Homo sapiens: one gene and its partner. The protein of the gene in region 2 purifies or fractionates together with the protein of the main gene of each other region. This does not show direct contact. Each region holds a gene or a part of one and is shown on either strand. Other genes may lie near its edges.

Region 1 (7,033 bases), on a different chromosome or scaffold from region 2:
GCCACCTTGTGTGTGGGGGACAGAGGGGGGCACATTTTCATAGTGTTTTGTGGTTTTCAAGGCCGTGTCAGATGTAATCCTGGACACAAAGTAAAGCACCTGCTTTTCTTGATTTGGAAACTGAGACTCTGGGAGGCTAAGTGAACTCTACAAGTTCTATTTTTTTTTTTTTTTTTTTTGAGATGGAGTCTCACTCTGTCGCCCAGGCCACAGTGCAATGGCGCGATCTTAGCTCACTGCAACCCTCCACCTCCCGGGTTCAAGCGATTCTCCTGCCTCAGCCTCCTGAGTAGCTGGGATTACAGGTGCACACTATCACGCTCAGCTAATTTTTGTATTTTTAGTAGAGACGGGGTTTCACCATGTTGGTCAGGCTGGTCTCAAACTCCTCTCCTCGTGATCCACCCGCCTCGGCCTCCCAAAGTGCTGGAATTACAGGCATGAGTCACCGCGCCCGGCCCACAAGTTCTATTATGGGTGGTTTTGTGCAAGGGGGCTGGGGTACCAACAGGAAGCAAAATCTCCCAACATGCAGGCCACGGATCTTTCAACTCACAAGACCTTTGAAAGAACATTTGTCAGACTGCCAAGTTTAGGTATGGATTGTGGCTCATCCACTAAGTCTCTGTGACCATGAAGAAGTCGTTTCCCCTCTTCTGATTCTCATCCTAAACTGAATATGACAGTGCCGCCCTAGCTGGCAGAAGGTGGGTGGCGAGGAGGAAGAGAGAGACAAGCATGAGCTGAGTCACTCTGCTCTCTGCACTCGTCTGAGTCTGTCCTTGCAAATCACCAGATAGGACTGGTGGGCACCATCACGATTTCACTGATGGGAACAGCAGTCACATTACAGGAGAGGATACATACATGGAATCTAAAAAAAAATGATTTCCAAATAAGACTGGAAAACCTCTTCAATCTCCCAAAAATATAGTAATGAAAATGACTGAAGAGGCAACATGAATTCTAAAAGATCATCCCACTGCCTTTTTCTTTTTACTCCCTAAGGGATGGAACTTCCTCATGATGCTTTGGATTCTTTTTCTGAAAAGACACCCCACTTTTTGGTGACCCTGCATGCTTCTAATGTTTTTCTCATGCCTGCCTATAAAGGTTTTCTATTTGGGTTCAGAGTCAATAATAATAACAAGCAACAGTAAAGAAACAGCAGGCATTGTTTGTTGAGGGCCTATGATATACACTGTTGCTGAGCCCTTTCTAGCAACCATCCATAATCCATACAACTACCAGGTGATGTCAGCATTACCTTCTCTATGTTACAGATAAGAAAACTAAGCCTCAGAGAAGTTTAGTGACTTGGCCAAAGAAGGCCATCTTTATAACGGCAGGGCTGGGATTTAAACCATTGTATGACTGATTCCAAAGCCTGTTTTTTCTGTTCCTATTGCATTATGAGGCCTCTAGTCAGTTTACAAAACGCATCAAAGACTCTGGGCAATGCTTCTCGTTCGTGATTTCCTCCCATCACTATCCCGCAGAATGGAATACCTTCCAGGTGGTCAGAAAGCTCTCCCATTGAAATCCCAGCTGCAGGGTAAGTAGGGTGGATATGAAGTGGGCTGGGCAGATGGAATGGCAAAGAGACCCCACATGCTTTCCCCCTGTACCAAAAGAATTGTGATTTCACTTCCACATCACTAACCTGGTGAGGCACAAGCCCAAGAGAGGTTGGAGGCTCATTCATCCGATCGTCACTGCTGCTGGCAATGGCATAGCCCCTGAGGACAGGAAACAATCAGAGCTGCTCATTTAATCCAAGTTTAACACATGGGAGGATGATCTAGCAGAAATCTACATAAGATTCATAAGGATAACTAAAATGCCCCTTGCTGGGCAGTGTAAGTTAGCAAAAAACTAATTTCCCTGGGACAAAGGGCAAGAAGAGTAATTTAAACATGCATGGTTTGGAGTCAGAAAGACCTGAGCTTGTGACCATAGGCAAGTTGCTTAACTTTTCTGTGCTTCAGATCCATCATCTATAAAGTAGGAATGAGGGAGCTCTGATTAATAAATGAGGAATCTACTACATCAACTGCCGAGTGCAATGTTCGGCATATCAGAGGCCAATAAACATTAACTCACTTACTATGAAATAGTCTTGTCAAACATCACAGCACATTTCTGTACTGAAAATTTGAAGTGGAAAATTTTCTAACCTTAACTTCTTGAGCTGATATAAATGCTAATGAAATGGAAGAAATAAAAGTGAAGAATGAATTGGGCAGAACTAATACACTACTCTCTGAACAATGGAGTGATACTTGTGGCACCAAAAAGATGTGACACAGGACCTGGTGTTTAAACTATGACCAGGGCAAATGTGGCAGACAGAGGCTCAGTGTCAAGGAAGCATAAAGTCAGCTCTCAAAGATTTTATCCCAAATACTTCCTGTCAGAGAGTGGCAATAAACTTAAATGACAGATAGCTAAGGTGGATGACAAAGAGGAAGACAAAAAAGCCCCGCTTTTCATTTATCTCAGAGTACCCATACTAGTTACATATACAACCACAATTTTCAACTGCTGAGGAAAGCTTTGAGTCACACAAGAAATAGAATATTCATGTTAATTTGCATATTGACTTTCTGAGAACTGGAAAAATAAATCTTTCAAAAATTCGATTTTCTGCTGCCTGTATTGCAAACAGCATAACAAAGTCATTAAACATAGTCTGGAGCCACACTGGTTGAGCTAAACCCTGGCTTTTCCATTTACTATGTAAATTTGGCCACTTACTTATCCTCACTATGCCTTGATTTCCCCATCAAAACTGCGACTAATAATAATAGTTCTTTCCTAATATGTTTGCTATGAAGATTAAAGGAGGCCGGGTGCAATGGCTCACGCCTGTAATCCCAACACTTTGGGAGGATAAGGTGGGTGAATCACTTCTGATCACTGAGGTCAGAGGTTCAAGACTAGCCTGACCAACATGGCAAAACCCCATCTCTACTAAAAATACAAAAATCAGCCGGGCATGGTGGCGTATGCCTGTAATTCCAGCTACTTGGGAGGCTGAGGCAGGAGAATCACTTGAACCTAGAAGGCAGAGGTTGCAGTGAGCCAAAATCGTGCCATTACACTCCAGCCTGGGCAACAAGAGCGAAATTCCGTCTCGTTAAAAAAAAAAAAAAAGATTGAAGGAGGCAAAATTTCTAAGGTGCTTAGAACAGTGCCTAGCACAAAGTAAGCCCTATATAAGCGTTGGAAAAATAAAATAAACCATAGTGACTTTGTCCGGAAAGATGCAGAAATGTGGCCACAAAGGAAACATGCCAAGTTATCTCAGCCCAAAGAACCAGACCTGCTTTTTCTAGTCTTGTTTTTTTGAGGGTGAAATAGTGAAATTCTCTGTAAAGTCAGACTGAGAAAAGGCCATGGGAGACACTGATGAACAACTGCCTACAAAAGCTTTGTTTAAATACTCATCTCCTACTAGCAAACTCACCCTTCTGGATGCTGCAAAACAGATACCATCAATTCCACGGCCAGGGCTCCTGCAATCACGGCCAGTCCTGGACGACTCACAGTGCACTGCTGGTCCAAGGTCCGGTCTCTGGTTGACTGCAAAGAAACAATCATTGGTGTGTGCAGAACGTTCTACTCCATTCAACTCTAGCTGTCTCAAGTATGAAATCCTCTGTGACAAAGCTTTAAATTATAACCAGATGCTCATTGTTGGCAAAGAACATCCAGCCTCAAGTACATCATTTCTTGAGATTATCAAGATAAACAAAATATACAATTTAGGTAACTAAATGAGGTGATATGCTAAAAAGGATCAGTAGCCTAAACAGATTGGGGGATATTAACCAAAAATGAGGGCTTAGCTGCCTCATATAATGGAACTGCATCATGTGTTCCTTTAAGTGACTCAATTCAGTTCTACTGTGCTTGGTAGTTAAGTGACAGAGACACAGAAAGGAACAATGATTTGAAAAGTGCAAATGATTCTGCCCTGCCATTTTAACTGAGCTAACACCTCAAAGTGACCGTGAGATGGGAGCAACAATTTACTATTCCTGCGGCCCTCAGTTCCTATGTGCCTCTCACAACATGGGCATCACCTCTCTGTGTGATTCTAGGGTTTACTACAAGTATTTTTTTTTTCTACAACATGGCTCTAAGCACAAGCCTTTGCTGGTTCAACCAAAGAGAGTCTAACCATCCAACTCTGGGCAAATTAAGAGGTTGTTAGAGATATTTTTGACTCTATAAAAATTTTACCTTATGAGCAGATGGGACTTTACTGCAAGGGACCACTAATCGTATTTGTTGACAATCACTAAATAACAAGACCAGCTATATATTATAACACCATAACAGAGATCATCAAGCCATCTTTCTCCATAAAAGAGAATGGTCATCTTCTTTTCTTTATATTGGGAGGGCATAAAAGCCAGTCATCCAAAAGAGATATGAGTTATTAAGGGAAAAGTTTTAAAACAAAGGAAAAATAGAGGGGAGGTTACAGAAAACATCTCTGCATTGTTTCACTGGAAATCGTTATCTGTTCTGATAAAGGAACAGACCTACATACAGACTGACTTGTGTGGAGTTCTGAAAGTCATAGAATCTTAATTTGTACAGTGTAGTCTTGCTGTTCAAAGCACTGTCGCACTTGACCCACTTTGCACTGTGAGTTGACAGGGCAGGTATTCTTCCCTCCTCTATTAGCATTGCTAGGGAGAATACAAGACACTCAGTTAAATTTGAATTTCAGATAAATAAATTTTTAGTATAAGTGGGTCTTGAATATTGCATGGGACATATACCAAAAAATTATTCATTATTGGCTAAGCGTGGTGGCTCACACCTGTAATCCCAGCACTTTGGGAGACTGAGGCAGGTGGATCACGAGGTCAGGAGTTCGAGACCAGCCAGACCAACATGGTGAAACCCCGTCTCTACTAAAAATACAAAAATTAGCTGGGCATGGTGGCACACACCTGTAATCTCAGCTACTCAGGAGGCTGAGGCAGGAGAATCACTTGAACCCAGGAGGCAGAGGTTGCAGGGAGCCGAGATTGTGCCACTGCACTCGAGCCTGGGTGACAGGGCGAAACTCTGTCTCAAAAAAAAAAAAAAAAGAATTCATTATTAACTGAAATTCAAAGTTAGCTGGGAATCCTATATTTTTACTTACTAAATCTGACAAGCCTACACATCACTCCTATTTTGCAAAGGTAGAGGGAACCTAAGAGACTTTTTAGAACTACCTGGGAGGCAGTGTCAAGCCATTGATGGAATCTGGTCTTTAGACTCCTGATTTGTAATGTTATCTTGACTAAGAGAAGCACCGGAGACAATACGGAGTGCTATCAGGGACTAGTCTGCTGTGGTTTCCTCAATAAGCTTTCCAAAAATATGGTTTGTAGCCGCGTTTATATTGGTGAACAAGGAACAGGTGTACAGTTGATGACGCCAGTCAAGGTTCATAATGAGATAATGCCATCCTCCCCAAATTGGAGAATTCTTCTCTTTGTTAAAAGATAATATTTAAATAGTCATAAATGAAAGGGCCAAGTCGGTCTGCCTCAGTGTACAAGTTGGTGATAGGAAATATTTGGAACTATAGAGAAATCCACTTACATCTCCTGGGGCCACCACATCATTGCAGAAGTAGCAGCCAAGCTTGTAACCAGGGATGTTGGCAAAAAGCGATGAGCCCAGGAGGTCAGCAGATGCCACAGGGTGGTTTGGACACAAGTCCCCAGCTCCTTGCTGCTTTGGTTTCTTCAGACCATGTCTCATGACAACAAATGTGTCAAATCCCAAAGCAGCATTGATGACCAGCTGCAGGTTTCAAGGAATGAAAGAGCAGAGTTAAAAGACACATATATTTCAAGCTGTGGCTAATTCCATATTTGCTCAACTTTTTAAAATTTATTTTTTGCATGTAAGTGTAATTAGATTATAAAAGCTAATGATGATAAAATCTACCCACTACTGAGGGCTTATTAATTACAAAAGACTTGATAAGTGATGAACATAAATTATCTCATTTAATTTCATTTGAAACTCATAACAGACCAGGTATAGTGGCTCATAACCTGTAATCCCAGCACTTTGGGAGGCCAAGGCGGGCAGACTGTCTGAGGTCAGGAGTTCGAGACCAGCCTGGCAACATGACGAAACCCTGTCTCTATTAAAAATACAAAAAATTAGCCGAGCATGATGGCTTGCGCCAGTAGTCGCAGCTACTCAGGAGGCAGAGGCATGAGAAATGCTTGAACCTGGGAGATGGAGTTTGCAGTGAGCCGAGATTCCGCCACTGCACTCCAGCCTGGGTGACAGAGCAAGATTCTATCTCTGAAAAAGAAAAAAGCAAACAAAAAAACTCATAACAAACATTTCTTATTTATAGATGAGGATACTGAAAGTCAGAGAAGTTAGTTCTATAACTTGCCCAAGGTCACTTATCTGGCAAGAGGTAGGTATATAAAACCAAGTCTACATAGTTCTCAAACACATTCTTTCCACCATTATGCTATACTGTCATGTTCACATAGATTTGTTTTTATAACAGCTTTATTGAGATATAACTCACATACCATATAATTCACCCTTCACATAGAATTTTTTTGGTATCCCAGTAGCTGGAATTACAGGCACATGCCACCATGCCTGGCTCCGCATAGTTGGTTTTTTTTTGTTTTTTTGTTTCTTTGGGGTTTTTTTGAGACAGGATCTCACTCCGTTGCCCAGGCTGGAATGCAATGGCGTGATCTCGGTTCACTGCAGCCTCAACCTCCCAGGCTCAAGTGATCTTCCTGCCTCACCCTCCTGAGTAGCTGGGAGCACGGGTGTGCATCACCACACCTAGCTAATTTTTTGTTTTTCTTCTAGAGAGAGAGTCTCACCATGTTGCCCAGGCTAGTCTCAAACTCCTGGGTCAAGCAATCCTCCCAAAGTGCTAGGATACAGATGTGAGCCACCATGTCCAGCCCAACACATAAATTTTTAAGAAACCGTTTTTTCATTATACTATAACAACTTTTCATAGTTCTAA
Region 2 (7,033 bases):
AGCCTATAATGCTTTTTTCTTTTGCCAATGGATGTGTACGTGGATTGGGAACACGCTAAAAACTCAAGTAGTATTCATATTGGCCTTAGCTCTTACTTCCTATCAGGCCTTCTTGTGACTCCACTGAACATCCCCTTCCCATCAGCTAGTGATGCCTGGAGAACTTATCTACCCCTTCTGTGGCTGTCTTATTTCCAGAATGTCCCCATTAAATTACTGGTAGTTTGCTGCTTGCCTCAACTGGGACTGCAACCTCTGGCTAGCAGAGCTGCAGCTTTTTTCTTTTCATTTAGTACCTATTTTGCTATTTTTATTGACAGTGCTGCTGAGCAATAGTTTTAGCTATCTGTTGGAAATCAGGCCAGCCCCTCTGGCTACACAGTTATTGGCTCTTATGGCCAGATTGCTCTGGTAAAACTTCTGTTGATGGAGTGTCTGGGGACATTGGGGAAGAGGAGGAGGGGATATGGAAGTACTTCCAGGCAAGAAGGCTTCAGATTCCCTCTGTTTCTAACTTGAAGTTTAGCAGATTATCATGAACTAAACACGTCTCAGATTTTATATTTGCCCTTGGTTGATTTCCAGGACCCAAAAATGGTTAGTTTTTGACAATTTTGTTCATTTTTATATTTAATTTCTGGGGAGAGGATTTGCTGACCTCTTTATTCTATCACAGCTGGAAGTCCACTTCTGTTGTTATTAATTTATAAAATTCTTCTAAAAGATTACATATCTTATAATTCCTATTTTAAGCTGATCAGCATATTATAGGCTTGATTCTTTTGAACCAAAAGCATTTTGCCAAAACAATATAATTTTTATTTTAAAATCCAATTTATTAATAAATTTAAACTTTTAATTTTTAAAGACCATCATTCATTTTAATATATTCTATTTAATTATATAAATATAAGGTCTCAGTATAGTAAAGGATAAAGAATTTTTTAAAGATGGCCAAACCTGCATTAAAGAAATGCTTAAGCTATTCTAAAAGCTCTTCAAAGGCATGAAAGTCTCAATTATTTTAAAAAGTGTTTTAAATGACATTGCCATGCATTTTATTCTATTAGAACATAACCTTAAATGCTAATATGACTGTTTTATGTTCTTTGAGGAAAAATGAATATTAAAATGTTGTAGATTACTGAAGTGTTTTTGAAGTACCTAAACTTTTATTTTAATTTAAATTCATTTAAATTATTTTTCATTAATTTGGTTTTAAACCTGAATACAAATATAGTGATAGTTCTAGTTGCCATATAGACCTAGACCTTTTACTAATTCAGACCTTTCTTCCTTTCACTTATAAACAGTTGTCAAATATTCCTAAACACTTAGATACTGGTCAGTGATGCTTTTAATATGCTACTTAATTTACAGGAACGTCCTATTTTTAGATTGAAATTTGGCTTTATTATAGGGTACCATAAGACTACTTTCTGAATGTCTGGCTGTTATTCTTTTCTGTTTAGATATTAATGGGTTAAATACTAATAGCCAACTAAGTGTCTGCTATGTGTCAGGTACTGTTCTATGTACTTCTGTGGTATTATCTCATTGAAGGGTCACAGTCAATCTCTGAGACAGATACTATCATTAGCCACAGTTACCAGATGAGGAAACAGAGACGTAAAATGGTTAAGTGACTTTCCCAATAGCTCACAGCTACCAAGTGGTAGAGCAGGACTTGATCTCAAACAGTCTTAACCATAGAGCTCATGCATGTGCTTACCCACTTGCTATGTGGAATGAAAAAAAGATGACTTATAGAAGTAAAGTCCATGTCTTTACAAAGCAGCATCAAATGAGCAGAGCTGCAGTGTGCCATGGTCCTAAGACTCCTCTAAGAAAATGGTCCCCTGAACTGTAAGTGCCTATCCACCTCTTAGATAAGAAAGAGATGCCAAAGGGAAAGTGAGTCTTGGAGAGAGTGGAGGCTGCGTGATTGAACTGATCCTCCCTATTAGGAGTGTTTCCGTCTAGTGGAAATTTGTAACTGTAGGTTTCATTTCATTAAAGTCAACATGTACTTTACATCAATAAGATTGGATTATACCTCTTTATTCCTTCCATTGGCAACTATGTAAGTCATCCCAAAAGAATTTAGACTACATTTATCTTTTTTAAATCCCAGCTTTCTAAACAGTCATTGTTTTAGTCCAGGATAATTCTAAATTTTTTTGCATTTTTCCTGCATATTTTCTATGCTCATTTCCCCCATAGGGTCATCTGCCCCCACATTCTGTTCCCAAATCTCTGCATGGTTGTTTTTTTCCTTGTCGTTCTGATCTTTGATTAAGTTTCACCTTATTTTAGTCCATTTAGGCTGTCATAACAAAAATACCATAGACTGGGTGGCTCAAGAACCAACACTTATTTCTCCCAGTTCTGAAGGCTACAGGATCCAGGATGAGGGCACTGGAAGATCCAGTGTCTGGTGAGGACCCGTTTCCTATTTCATAGATGCCATCTTCTCACTGTATCCCCACATGATAGGAAAAGAGTGAGAGTTACACCTCTTAGGGTGTAACCCTAAGAGGGATACACACATTCAGTCCATTGTATTACCTCTTCCTTCAGGCCTTCCCTTTCCAAGTCTAATGTCACCACAATCCCTCCAGAATCATGTTACCCTGTTGTGTTTCCTTTGTAGGGCTTATAATTATCTGGATTATCTTATTTATTCGTTCTGTGTGTTTATTGGCTGTCTCCTGCACTGAAATCTAAGTTCCATGGGATCAGGAACATTGTTTATCTAAGAGATGCAGTGGTCTCTATAACTATAGCTAGAAGTATTCTGGCAGACACATAAAAAAGATGATTGATTAATATATGTTGAATTGCTAAATATTAGTTTAAGGCAGGTAAGGGAAACCAGATTCAAGTTGGACAGGAGGACTTGGCATAGGCCCAACACATCAGGGCTTTGAGCCCAGGGCCCAGTTAGGGATGGGAATGAAGGTTGGGAAGAGAGCTGTAGAGAGGAAGCTGATGCCTTGCTGGAAGAATCAGGCGACTGGTCAGAGTCACCTGGAGATGGCACTCAGGGAGAAACAAATGCCAGGTGGTGCTAAAAATGCCAGATACATGCAATAACCTATCACTAGTGGATAACTCATCCCTCACCACCACCACCCCAAATCTCCATACCCAGTGTCACCAATACAAGAGGAATTGTCCCTTCCAGTTCTTGTGAGTGGATATGTGCATAAGCATACAGACATGAATGTTTGGAGCTGAGGGGTAGAGGCAGCAAGGACAGCCACATAATTCATCCCATCAACAGCTCTGAGTTCAGCTTCCCCTTGGGTTGGCTGAGAGAAGAAGCCAAGAGAAGAAACTAGGCATCCCCTAGTCTAAATCCAGCCTACAAGCCTGTTTTACTTGTCCCACTCCATGTTTAAAAATAAATTATGCCAACACTTAAATGTAGGAGGTTTAACATAAACTTCAGCTTTTCTAGGTTAGTTTCACAAATAGGGAGGTCTGGCATGCTGAACCTGCATTCCCACATGGGACAGTTGGCTGGAGCAGAGTAGCCAGCATGGCCTTGGATGGGTGCACTCGGCAGTTTCTCACGGGCCCCGTCATCTGCTGGTGTATTTAGCTGGCATTATCCCCTTAGGTCACCTGCTTTGTCTTCATAGGTATTTGAGTTTGCAGTGTTGGTATAATGGTTAATCCACAATACAAATAATCAATAAATGTATCATCAATAATAGTGTTTTTGTTGGTAGAACTTGTGCACAGATTACCCACTACATAGAAACCTCCTAGGGCTCCCCATTGCTTGCCAAATGATGTCCACGTCCCTAACTTGGGTATGGTCTGACCTATATCTTATATCCAATTACTACCTTATAAAAGAAACAGAGTTACATTTCAGGCTTTTAACTTATAAAAACAGCCCTGTAGGCTTGGGAGAGACAGAAGGAGAGAAATGAGGAAAAAGAAAAACAAAAACTCAGAGACGGAAAGAGAGAGAGAGACAAACAGAAGTAGAACAATTTAAATAGTGCAGGCCATCTCCTCCCATCCCTGGTTCTACTCGTGGAACATGTGCCCACTGGCACTGGATACATGTAGGCTTGAAACAACATGTTGACAAAATTTGTGTAAAGAAATATGCAAATGATTTTGAGTCTCTTACCATTGACAAAGAGGTGAATAAAATGAATTGTTTAGGTTGTCAAACTACTGAGCTTTGTGAACATCCTTGAAGAAAAACTGAAGAATAATGATAGGCCAAAGAGAAACACTGGCCAACAGAGAGGGAACTGATAAAATGCAACTACAGTTTATATTGTGTAAACAAAAATGGGTGCCCTGCTATACTCGACCATACTGCTTTATCAATGAATAGTCCTTTCTCACCAACTTCTTCTGATGTTTGGATTATAAATTGTTTTTAAAAATAGAAAATAAACCTGTATATTAATTCAATAACTTGGAATTTGAGACAAACCTTTATTTTAAAGGAGTAAACCAGATAAATTATTTTAGCCTTTTCAAAGTAACTCACACTGATCCTGGACCAATTCTGATTCTTACAGGAACATCCAATACTTGGGCAACCCTTTTTTGTACTTCATCCCTGCAAGACGAATGAATTCATGACTCCTGTATTAAAGAATTCTCAGAAAATCAATAAGTAAGAAACACCATCAAGATACATTGGCTTCTACTCTGATTTTAAAAGTGTAAATCTTTTTATGTGACTCTAAATGCTAGGCTAAAAAAGAAATATTAATAATAATAATGGCTAACACAATGATTTTTAGGATATGCTAGATGCTGTTCTAAGAGTTTTAGATACAGTAAGACATTGGATTTTTGCAGCATTCCTATGTGCTAAGTACTATTATTTTGCCCAATTTACAGAGGAGGAAGTTACAGAACAGAGGAGTTAAGCCACTCAAACAAGGTCACACAGCTAGTTAAGTGGTGGGATTTGAATCTAAGCATTTTGGCCTCAGAACCATGCTCTTAATCACTGCACTCTGCTACCTTAGTAAGTGCTGTAAACTGTAAGGGTAAAATTTGAATCATCAAGGGAAGTCAGGAGCCAGTACCTTACCTCATTCTTCAACTACCCTAATGAGGGATCCTTACAGGCTCTCTGGACCTTAAATTCTTGTCAAGCAATGGGGCTGGCATTCAGAAATGCTGAGATTCCAGGTGGTAGGTACAAATCTTTGAAGAAAGCCTCACTTTTGTTATTGTTGGTGACCAACTGATGTTCTACCATTCATCCAAAAACTACAATGGAAACGTTAGCATGGCCTGTATTTCACTTGTTTCCTAGGAATGTCAACTATATCACATCATGGCTGAGCATTGTAGGGCCAGTTGTTGGGCTGAATCTACCTCTGAGTTATGCCAAAGCAACGTCTCAGGATGAACGAAATGTCCCTTAACAAGGTAAAAGAAAAGCCTGGATTTAATGTTTTGCCGTTACAAAGATCAATGTCTCCATTGCATTTAGACTCATCCCACCAAATGCAAAATTTGCTTTCATCTTTAGTGGGCAAACCCTGACTTAATTTTTAGTTTTCCAATCAGTCCCCTACCAAGTTATTTAGGACAGGGATCCCCAAATCCCAGGCCATGGACCGGAACCAGGCCTCACAGCAGGAGGTGAGCGGCAGCTGGGTGGGCAAGCAAGCGAGCATTACCACCTGAGCTCTTCCTCCTATCAGATCAGCTGCAGCATTGGATCTGCATAGGAATGTGAACCCTATTGTGAACTGCGCATCTGAGGGACCTAGGTTGCGCGCTCCTTATGAGATTCTAACCAATGCCTGATGATCTGAGGTGGAACAGTTTCATCCTGAAACCATCTCCCATTCGGTCTGTGAAAATGGTTTTCCCTGAAACTGGTGCCTGGTGCCAAAAAGGTTGGGGGCCACCAATTCAGGAAATATTTTACTTTGCTGTAAGTAGCATGCACTCAGTGACAGGAATGGATAGTTTTATTTTAGTACTGATATTCTTAAATAAGTCTTTACTGCTCAGTTATTTTTCTTTTATTCTCTTGGCTTTTGTTTTATGTTCTTCAGATTCTTCTATTGAGTTTAGGAATTGCGGCACGAAGAATGCCAAGAGTTTACCTGGCCAGCCCTGGCTTTAATAGGACTGATACCATGGAATATTTCATCTCACCAAGATGTGACATGGATTATTTTTCCCTTGGACACAAATGTCTACAGCAACTGGTGTTTGATAGGCTGAATGTTTAGAAGAAACACTTCAAAGGGATACATCATGGCCAGGCATGGTGGCTCACACCTGTAATCCAAGCACTTTGGGAGGCCAAGGTGGGAGCATCACTTGATCCTGGGAGTTCGAGACCAGCCTGGGCAACATGGTGAAACCCTGTCGGTACAAAAAAATACAAAAATTTGCCTGTTTATGGTGGTGTGTTCCTGTAGTCCCAGCTCCCCAGGAGGCTGAGGTGGGAGGTTGGCTTTAACCCAGGAGGCAGAGGTTGCAGTGAGCTGAGACTGTGCCACTGCAGTCCAGCCTGGGTGACAGAGCCAGACACTGTCTCGGGGAAAAAAAAAAAAAAAAAAAGACACATCACTATAAATAGCAAAAAAACAAATCTAACTTATTAATACTAGGAATACCAACATTATTAGGGCACTTGCAGGTTATTCTTTTCTAGGCCAAGTACTTCACTTCCATTTGTCTGACATGGAGATTGAGGGAGAAATGTATTTGTGTGTTCATTTTAATGTAAGATATATAAAAATTAAATTACTGGATTTACCTGTCCCTGAAACTGGTGTTATAAACATGACCTATCTTAAGTGATTTTCCCACAATCAAACTCAGGAACAATAGATTATTTCTGTTTTACTCCAAAAGAGAGAGAGAGAGTGAGTGTGAGTGTGTGTGTGTGTGTGTGTGTATGTGTGGGTGTTTGTGTAGATAGTTGTAAAACAAAGAAAAAACACAATATTTTACTGTGAGATAATATGTTTTACCAGCAAAGTGTGGCATAGTAATTAGAAGTTTTCTAAAAAGCTAT

The links. Proteins that work in one complex are often made in the same cells at the same time.
Region 1: the proteins of ATG10 (region 2) and ATG7 purify together in Homo sapiens (affinity purification with mass spectrometry; 4 studies listed by BioGRID and IntAct, with this or other methods). This does not show direct contact.

The regions. Positions count from the first base shown.
Region 1 is NC_000003.12:11,359,365-11,366,397, reverse strand, and holds part of ATG7 (ubiquitin-like modifier-activating enzyme ATG7), read right to left. Parts: intron 5,818-7,033; coding exon 5,614-5,817; intron 3,586-5,613; coding exon 3,470-3,585; intron 1,740-3,469; coding exon 1,664-1,739; intron 1-1,663. UniProt on the Homo sapiens protein: E1-like activating enzyme involved in the 2 ubiquitin-like systems required for cytoplasm to vacuole transport (Cvt) and autophagy.
Region 2 is NC_000005.10:82,248,009-82,255,041, forward strand, and holds part of ATG10 (ubiquitin-like-conjugating enzyme ATG10), read left to right. Parts: intron 1-4,553; coding exon 4,554-4,651; intron 4,652-5,305; coding exon 5,306-5,417; 3' UTR 5,418-5,421; intron 5,422-6,059; 3' UTR 6,060-7,033. UniProt on the Homo sapiens protein: E2-like enzyme involved in autophagy. Acts as an E2-like enzyme that catalyzes the conjugation of ATG12 to ATG5. ATG12 conjugation to ATG5 is required for autophagy. Likely serves as an ATG5-recognition molecule. Not involved in ATG12 conjugation to ATG3.